Homo sapiens: one gene and its partner. The protein of the gene in region 1 purifies or fractionates together with the protein of each later gene. This does not show direct contact. Each region holds a gene or a part of one and is shown on either strand. Other genes may lie near its edges.

Evidence for each region.
Region 2: the proteins of ISL2 (region 1) and BCL9 purify together in Homo sapiens (affinity purification with mass spectrometry; 2 studies listed by BioGRID and IntAct, with this or other methods). This does not show direct contact.

What each region holds. Positions count from the first base shown.
Region 1 is NC_000015.10:76,339,530-76,343,035, forward strand, and holds the end of ISL2 (insulin gene enhancer protein ISL-2), read left to right. Parts: intron 1-746; coding exon 747-1,030; intron 1,031-1,604; coding exon 1,605-1,772; intron 1,773-2,189; coding exon 2,190-2,306; 3' UTR 2,307-2,946; downstream 2,947-3,506. Other genes in the region: uncharacterized protein LOC124903532, read right to left, coding at 3,251-3,506. UniProt on the Homo sapiens protein: Transcriptional factor that defines subclasses of motoneurons that segregate into columns in the spinal cord and select distinct axon pathways.
Region 2 is NC_000001.11:147,621,428-147,626,946, forward strand, and holds the end of BCL9 (B-cell CLL/lymphoma 9 protein), read left to right. Parts: intron 1-843; coding exon 844-1,104; intron 1,105-2,414; coding exon 2,415-3,532; 3' UTR 3,533-4,789; downstream 4,790-5,519. UniProt on the Homo sapiens protein: Involved in signal transduction through the Wnt pathway. Promotes beta-catenin's transcriptional activity.

The DNA of each region.
Region 1 (3,506 bases):
TCTGGAATCAGTCACTGTTTCCCCGGGATGGAGAGAACCTGGGGCCAAGCGAGGAGAGTGCCAGCGGCTGCTCAGCACCTTGGTCGGTGGGAGGCCACTGGGCTGGGGAACCTGGAGCCTTGAGGAAGGAGACAGGGGCCGAAGCCCAAGGGCGGGCAGGAAGGAACTGTTGCAAGCCCTGGAGGCCCGTCCATAACCGTGGATGAGTCTTCTACACATGTGGCCTGGCCCTGTCCAAATGGGCTCTGAAGGAGGGGAAGGGCCCTCGTAGGCCCCCGGCATATTCGCACCTCCCACCCAGTCCCCTGGGCAGCGCCTCGCCCTGGGTCCACGTCGGTCCCTTTCCCTCTCCAGAGTCCTGGGCAAGCCTCTTTCCTCTTCCTCTGAAACTCCGACTTCTTCCGGAGGGCTTCGCTCGTTCCGAGGGTCCTGCGACTGGAGGAGGCACATCCCTGAGCAGCCACTCCCTCCCCGCAGCGGCCTGTCGCCGAGCTCCCGCGCCCTGCTTGAGCTCGGGAGAGATCGCTGCGGGGCAGTCCGGCCCGGGAGCGAGAGAAAGAACGAAAATGCACAGCTCTCTCCGAGTAAGGCGAACAGATGGAGAGGAAGACGAACAATTAAACGAAACAAACAGAATAAAACAGAAACGAAATCGGGCCCCGGGGGGCTGGGCCACCCGGAGGTTGGGCTCGGGGCGGGTGGGTGGCGGCCCCTCGCTAACCTCTGGCCTCACCCTGTCCTGGCAGACGCTGGGTCGGGCCGGCAGCCCGCGTTGCGCCCGCACGTGCACAAGCAGACGGAGAAGACGACCCGCGTGCGGACTGTGCTGAACGAGAAGCAGCTGCACACTCTGCGGACCTGCTACGCCGCCAACCCGCGGCCCGACGCTCTCATGAAGGAGCAGCTGGTGGAGATGACCGGCCTGAGCCCGCGGGTCATCCGCGTCTGGTTCCAGAACAAGCGCTGCAAGGACAAGAAGAAATCCATTCTCATGAAGCAGCTGCAGCAGCAGCAGCACAGCGACAAGACGGTGAGCAGCCGCTGGGCCGGAGGCTCGAGTCGGGTGGGGGCTGCGCTTCCGCCGCGGTATCTGCGTGCCCTTTTCTGGGCGAGCCCTGGGAGATCCAGGGAGAACTGGGCGCTCCAGATGGTGTATGTCTGTACCTTCACAGCAAGGCTTCCCTTGGATTTGAGGCTTCCTATTTTGTCTGGGATCGGGGTTTCTCCTTGTCCCAGTGGCAGCCCCGCGTTGCGGGTTCCGGGCGCTGCGCGGAGCCCAAGGCTGCATGGCAGTGTGCAGCGCCCGCCAGTCGGGCTGGTGGGTTGTGCACTCCGTCGGCAGCTGCAGAAAGGTGGGAGTGCAGGTCTTGCCTTTCCTCACCGGGCGGTTGGCTTCCAGCACCGAGGCTGACCTATCGTGGCAAGTTTGCGGCCCCCGCAGATCCCCAGTGGAGAAAGAGGGCTCTTCCGATGCGATCGAGTGTGCGCCTCCCCGCAAAGCAATGCAGACCCTAAATCACTCAAGGCCTGGAGCTCCAGTCTCAAAGGTGGCAGAAAAGGCCAGACCTAACTCGAGCACCTACTGCCTTCTGCTTGCCCCGCAGAGCCTTCAGGGACTGACTGGGACGCCCCTGGTGGCGGGCAGTCCCATCCGCCATGAGAACGCCGTGCAGGGCAGCGCAGTGGAGGTGCAGACGTACCAGCCGCCGTGGAAGGCGCTCAGCGAGTTTGCCCTCCAGAGCGACCTGGACCAACCCGCCTTCCAACAGCTGGTGAGGCCCTGCCCTACCCGCCCCGACCTCGGGACTCTGCGGGTTGGGGATTTAGCCACTTAGCCTGGCAGAGAGGGGAGGGGGTGGCCTTGGGCTGAGGGGCTGGGTACAGCCCTAGGCGGTGGGGGAGGGGGAACAGTGGCGGGCTCTGAAACCTCACCTCGGCCCATTACGCGCCCTAAACCAGGTCTCCCTGGATTAAAGTGCTCACAAGAGAGGTCGCAGGATTAACCAACCCGCTCCCCCGCCCTAATCCCCCCCTCGTGCGCCTGGGGACCTGGCCTCCTTCTCCGCAGGGCTTGCTCTCAGCTGGCGGCCGGTCCCCAAGGGACACTTTCCGACTCGGAGCACGCGGCCCTGGAGCACCAGCTCGCGTGCCTCTTCACCTGCCTCTTCCCGGTGTTTCCGCCGCCCCAGGTCTCCTTCTCCGAGTCCGGCTCCCTAGGCAACTCCTCCGGCAGCGACGTGACCTCCCTGTCCTCGCAGCTCCCGGACACCCCCAACAGTATGGTGCCGAGTCCCGTGGAGACGTGAGGGGGACCCCTCCCTGCCAGCCCGCGGACCTCGCATGCTCCCTGCATGAGACTCACCCATGCTCAGGCCATTCCAGTTCCGAAAGCTCTCTCGCCTTCGTAATTATTCTATTGTTATTTATGAGAGAGTACCGAGAGACACGGTCTGGACAGCCCAAGGCGCCAGGATGCAACCTGCTTTCACCAGACTGCAGACCCCTGCTCCGAGGACTCTTAGTTTTTCAAAACCAGAATCTGGGACTTACCAGGGTTAGCTCTGCCCTCTCCTCTCCTCTCTACGTGGCCGCCGCTCTGTCTCTCCACGCCCCACCTGTGTCCCCATCTCGGCCGGCCCGGAGCTCGCCCACGCGGACCCCCGCCCTGCCCCAGCTCAGCGCTCCCTGGCGGCTTCGCCCGGGCTCCTAGCGGGGAAAAGGAAGGGGATAACTCAGAGGAACAGACACTCAAACTCCCAAAGCGCATGATTGCTGGGAAACAGTAGAAACCAGACTTGCCTTGAAAGTGTTTAAGTTATTCGACGGAGGACAGAGTATGTGAGCCTTTGCCGAACAAACAAACGTAAGTTATTGTTATTTATTGTGAGAACAGCCAGTTCATAGTGGGACTTGTATTTTGATCTTAATAAAAAATAATAACCCGGGGCGACGCCACTCCTCTGTGCTGTTGGCGCGGCGGGAGGGCCGGCGGAGGCCAGTTCAGGGGTCAGGCTGGCGTCGGCTGCCGGGGCTCCGCGTGCTGCGGGCGGGGCGGGCCCGGTGGGGATTGGGCGCGGCCGAGGGGGTGGGGCTGGGCGCATGCGCGCTGAGGGCCCTCCCAGAAGCAGGAGCGCCCCATTGGCGACCCCTGGGCACCTGGCGGCCCAGGCCCGCGGGCAGGAGGCGGGACCCGTTTGGGCGGGAAACCTGCGGCACTTGTGGCGGTTGAGCGGCGGACTCCGGCCTAGGGTTATGCGGGCGAGGGCGCGCCCCGCTCCCGGAACCAGCCTTGGCCTGGCGCCTGCCGAGCCCCGAGCCCCACTCTCGCTCGGCGCCGCGGGCCCTCCCGGCGCTTCCTTCCCCAGCGGTCCGCGGCCCTGGGTGAGGCTCGAAGCCCCGCGCGCTGCCCCTGGCCCTGCAGCACAGCAGTGAGGCCAACCCCGGCCAGAGCGGGCGGCCGTGACGGGCCGTGCCCCGCGCTGTCCCCGGAGTGGATGCGCGACGTG
Region 2 (5,519 bases), on another chromosome or scaffold:
CTGGGTATAATCCTAAGCAGAGAGAGGGGAAGCTGCTGTAAGACTTGTGTGGTTCTTGTAAATACCTGTTGACCACAGAAACAGTTCCAAAATCTTCTCCTTGATAGACCACTGTTTTCACAGATCAGCTACAATTTAGGAGGATTTTCTTCCTGGGAGAGATTCTTGCTGATGATGATGGTTTTGTGAGTGGGACTAGAGGTGGTCAGTGGAAGTAGTGCCAAGGTGTAAATACTAGGTTGGTGCTGTCTCCACCTGAGAAAGACTAGAATCAGAGCAAGATAGAAGATTTATCCTACCAGCCTAAAGTGCCTCTCTGTAGGGTAGCAGTTCACTGAAGCAGTACAGTGGAACAGCCCCCTCAGACCTTCTTGGTTCAAACATCTTGGTTGTGGAAATTAATCAAGAATGCGTGTAGGGTGATGTCGTTAGTACCTGGGATCATATCACTAGTCTGGCTTCATAGCATACTAATACCTGAGTCGAATTCTAAACTGTGATTGGCAAGGGAAAGAGATCCACTTATTTCACATTCTATTCAGTGAAATGGTTGTCTGTAAACCATATTTTCCCCAAGCTTGAACTAATATTTCTAACACATTCCTGGTGTGTTTGTCTTCACATCTGCTGATCGGTCATGTCACCTCCATATCACACCACAGTCTCCCTCTGCACTCACACAGAGCTTGACTAGAAGATTGATGATTTGTGTCTGGGATCTAATAACACTGTCCTGTTCATCTGTCTCATTCCTGGCCTTGCTAGTTCATAATCATAGGGCCCAATACCCTTCAAAAGGAATCTAATTCCCTGCCCGTTTTGTTTTATTTTGCTTCCTTTTAGGTGGCCCCCCACCTCCTACAGCCAGCCAGCCTGCCTCTGTGAATATCCCTGGAAGTCTTCCCTCTAGTACACCTTATACCATGCCTCCAGAGCCAACCCTTTCCCAGAACCCACTCTCTATTATGATGTCTCGAATGTCCAAGTTTGCAATGCCCAGTTCCACCCCGTTATACCATGATGCTATCAAGACTGTGGCCAGCTCAGATGACGACTCCCCTCCAGCTCGTTCTCCCAACTTGCCATCAATGAATAATATGCCAGGTAAGAAATCAGAAAGGCAGGTTGTGGAGTGAGTGCTAGACCAAAGAGAAACCTCTTGAAGCGTTTTCTCAATGGCTATACACCTGAATAGGTGGAAGTTCAACAAGTAGAAAAAATCTTCCATCTAAGGTAGTTTCAGTAGAATGAAAGTGTCTTGACTAGAGGAAGATAATTTCTTATTAGCTTGATTCCTTATTTGTTTGTAAGAAAGCAGGTTTCTTTATAGTTCTGATGCTTCTGTGTACCTGGATGGTTTTGAGGGTTTGTTGTTTTTGTTTTTCTCTTTGGGTCCTCATGTAGCAATATAGAGAGTAGTTTCTAACAGGCTGATTGGAATGTCTTTAGTCCTCAAGTTTTTTTTTCTGGAAGAGCAGCCTCAAACCACAAGCAGCCACAGGATTTCAGACAGTGGAAAGCCCCTGTTTCCTAGACAAGCCTTTTTTTTTTTAGGACTAGGGAGATAATAAAATCCTTCCCTTCCCTACACATTCGGTACACCTTCATTCCTATACCCACCCCTCACCTCGACTCCTGCCACCTGACTAACAGAAAATGATCAGGATGGTGAAAGCAATCAGCAAAGAGACCATGACTTTTCAGCCATGAGTTTCTGGTTCCAGTTCTATTCTGATTGTTACAAATGCTCTTTATTTATCAGTAACTCTAATTAACTGGGTTAGTACATGTACCAGGAACAGCATAAGCCCCCTGCCACACTCGGTGGTAATTCCAACAGAGACACCAAATACTTCAATGTCCCAGGGACTGTATTAGAATATGTTACTTTCCTTTTCTATTAAAAGTTATTTCTTGAACATTTCGTGGAATCTCGAGTTTTAAATGCTTTCTCTATAAGGCACTTATAAAATAATGCCAAATGCCAATTGAAAAATTACCTGTTTAGTTTCTTTGTTATGATTCCTGATCATTGGGATTGTAGTACTGATTTCTCCAAAAGGACCGTACTTGAGTCATTCAGGCAAATTGTTTTCTTCTGTATTAAATATCTCCAATGAGGAAGGCGAAACTCATTTGTGTGCTAATTTATAACTTTTCACACATGACAATTTCTCCCTTGCTATCTTCTACACACAGTTTAAGACTCAATAATATATTGTCCTGTAGAGCTCTTGGTTTGTATGTCCCCAGATGTATTATGATCTTATTGATGGCAGGGATTGTGTGTTGTATGTTTTCCCAGCATTATACTATGCACATTGGATGCACAATAGTTTTTTTGTTAATTTATTATAGTTTTTCTGAGTTGATTTTTGGTTAAGTTGATTCCTTTGATATCTTTATTTTTCTAGGAATGGGCATTAATACACAGAATCCTCGAATTTCAGGTCCAAACCCCGTGGTTCCGATGCCAACCCTCAGCCCAATGGGAATGACCCAGCCACTTTCTCACTCCAATCAGATGCCCTCTCCAAATGCCGTGGGACCCAACATACCTCCTCATGGGGTCCCAATGGGGCCTGGCTTGATGTCACACAATCCTATCATGGGGCATGGGTCCCAGGAGCCACCGATGGTACCTCAAGGACGGATGGGCTTCCCCCAGGGCTTCCCTCCAGTACAGTCTCCCCCACAGCAGGTTCCATTCCCTCACAATGGCCCCAGTGGGGGGCAGGGCAGCTTCCCAGGAGGGATGGGTTTCCCAGGAGAAGGCCCCCTTGGCCGCCCCAGCAACCTGCCCCAAAGTTCAGCAGATGCAGCACTTTGCAAGCCTGGAGGCCCCGGGGGTCCTGACTCCTTCACTGTCCTGGGGAACAGCATGCCTTCGGTGTTTACAGACCCAGATCTGCAGGAGGTCATCCGACCTGGAGCCACCGGAATACCTGAGTTTGATCTATCCCGCATTATTCCATCTGAGAAGCCCAGCCAGACGCTGCAATATTTCCCTCGAGGGGAAGTTCCAGGCCGTAAACAGCCCCAGGGTCCTGGACCTGGGTTTTCACACATGCAGGGGATGATGGGCGAACAAGCCCCCAGAATGGGACTAGCATTACCTGGCATGGGAGGTCCAGGGCCAGTGGGAACTCCGGACATCCCTCTTGGTACAGCTCCATCCATGCCAGGCCACAACCCCATGAGACCACCAGCCTTTCTCCAACAAGGCATGATGGGACCTCACCATCGGATGATGTCACCAGCACAATCTACAATGCCCGGCCAGCCCACCCTGATGAGCAATCCAGCTGCTGCCGTGGGCATGATTCCTGGCAAGGATCGGGGGCCTGCCGGGCTCTACACCCACCCTGGGCCTGTGGGCTCTCCAGGCATGATGATGTCCATGCAGGGCATGATGGGACCCCAACAGAACATCATGATCCCCCCACAGATGAGGCCCCGGGGCATGGCTGCTGACGTGGGCATGGGTGGATTTAGCCAAGGACCTGGCAACCCAGGAAACATGATGTTTTAAGCTGCTAAGATGGGATGTGCCGATCCTTGTCAAGATGAGATTCCAGGTCCTGAGAGCTGCTTTGAGGGAGTTCCAGGAGTACTTACTATTGGTCATGCAATAGGAGAACAGAGACCCGAGGGCTGCTTTGGGGGAGGGGGGAACTCGAGAATGTATGGATTTACCTGAAAACAAATTATTCATTTAATCAACAGGTGTGTTTTTTTTAAGATTTATTTTTTAAAAATTATTTTTGTGGACTTGGGTATCAATGATGGCACCTACTTTTGGGAATCTGTAGCTGTGCTTTGAGAATTGCCATCGGTCATGTGTTGCACCGTTCTCTGTATGTTTACGTCCTTTGGACTGGCTTCTCCCAGGATTCTTTTCTGTTTTTGTTTTTTTGATTTGGGCTTTATTTTTTTCTGTGTACTGTACTATATTGTAAAAGGGATTTTAGCAGAGACTTTAGTCTTTGGGGCAAGAGGAGAACAGGAATGCTGGGCTGTTTACTTTAGGTGGAGAATCCATCTTCAGACCTTTGGACTATTTTCTTTCAACTGCAGTGTATAGAAAAACCAAACTACGACCTCAGAGCAGAGTATTAATGAAAAGCACAAAAAAAGGAACTAAGTTCAGCGAGGGGTGGGGGGAGGGGGGAGATTTTTCTTTTGAAAAATAATGACTCTTAGGACATTTGTTTTTCAGTTCAAGTGCTCTTCAGCACTGTCTTGTCTCCCAATATACCAACCCACTGGCACATTTTTCTCTTGTTTTCTCTCTCCGATTTTGCTCTGTCTCCTCAGTTAAGTGTTTCCTTCCTTTGTGCCCCCCGCTGGTGACCCTCTGCTTCCCTCTCTCTTTCCCTTTGGCAGCTGCAATACACAGTGTTATTTTGGGGAAATAAATCTAGCAAAGCCTCGCCTTCCATGCCGAGCGTCCTCTTGGCTCTGAGAGGGAAAGGTCTGTCCTTGGGATGCTCTCTGGTCTTTTTTCCCCCTAAGTCTTTCTCTTTCCCATCATACCCTTCCCTGCCCACCTTGTTTTCTGTTCTCCTTTTATTAGGAATTCCCAAGTGAATTTTATTAATGTGGGAGTGGAACAGATGCTAAAAGCTATCCAGGATTTTGTTTCTGTTTGTTTTAAATTTTGTGGTTCCTTCCCTTTCCTCCCCCTCCCATGCGTAAGACGTTCTGTGTAACCTCCATTAAATTTGGTACAAAACCACTCGCCAGAGCTGTGGTGTCAGAAAAATAAAATATATTGTTTCTTACAAAATTGAACTGCCTTTTTTGTTCATTTGGATTCCTGATTGTTTAGTATTGGGCATACCGGTTGCCATGTGACCCAGAAGCGTAGACTCTTTGTATTGGAGTTGATCAGTAAGGTGATGGTTAGGGAAACCACATAAAAGTACCTTCTCAAAGCATATTCCATGCTGTTAAGGAATAACTACTCATGTAGGTTTATTCTGTACTGTTCCTATCTCAGTCATGAAATCCTAGTTATAAGCAGAAGAGCAACCCTGGTCCCATTGCTGAACTTTACCTTTAGGGCAATTAATGGTCTTTATTAGGAATGTTTGTGAGAGCCAGTTTAGTGGTATGAAGTAATTAAGAAGGCCAAAGGTTGTATGTTTAGTTATTTGAATAAGCTATGAGATGTCCCTTGGTCTTGTTAAGGTAGAATATTATTACTATACCTGCAAATTATGGGTTTCCACAGTCCGTGGGTTTCTGTGGTCCTTTCTGGCTCCCCACCTCCCCCTTACCCCATCACCTCTGCTAACGCTGCTCAGTCTTTGTGCACAGTTCACTTCTCACCACACACATCTTCAGCAGATCAGTGTGTATCCTGCAAGGTATGTGCTAATGGACTTGCTGTTGTGCTTCTGTGCAGTTAATTCTGTTCTGGTGTGTGTATTTCTTTGAGTTGTAGGTGTTTTTAGCTCAGTGAGTGGGCGTCTGTGTGCGTGTTTGTTCTTAGGTGAGAGAATCTAAGCGAGGAG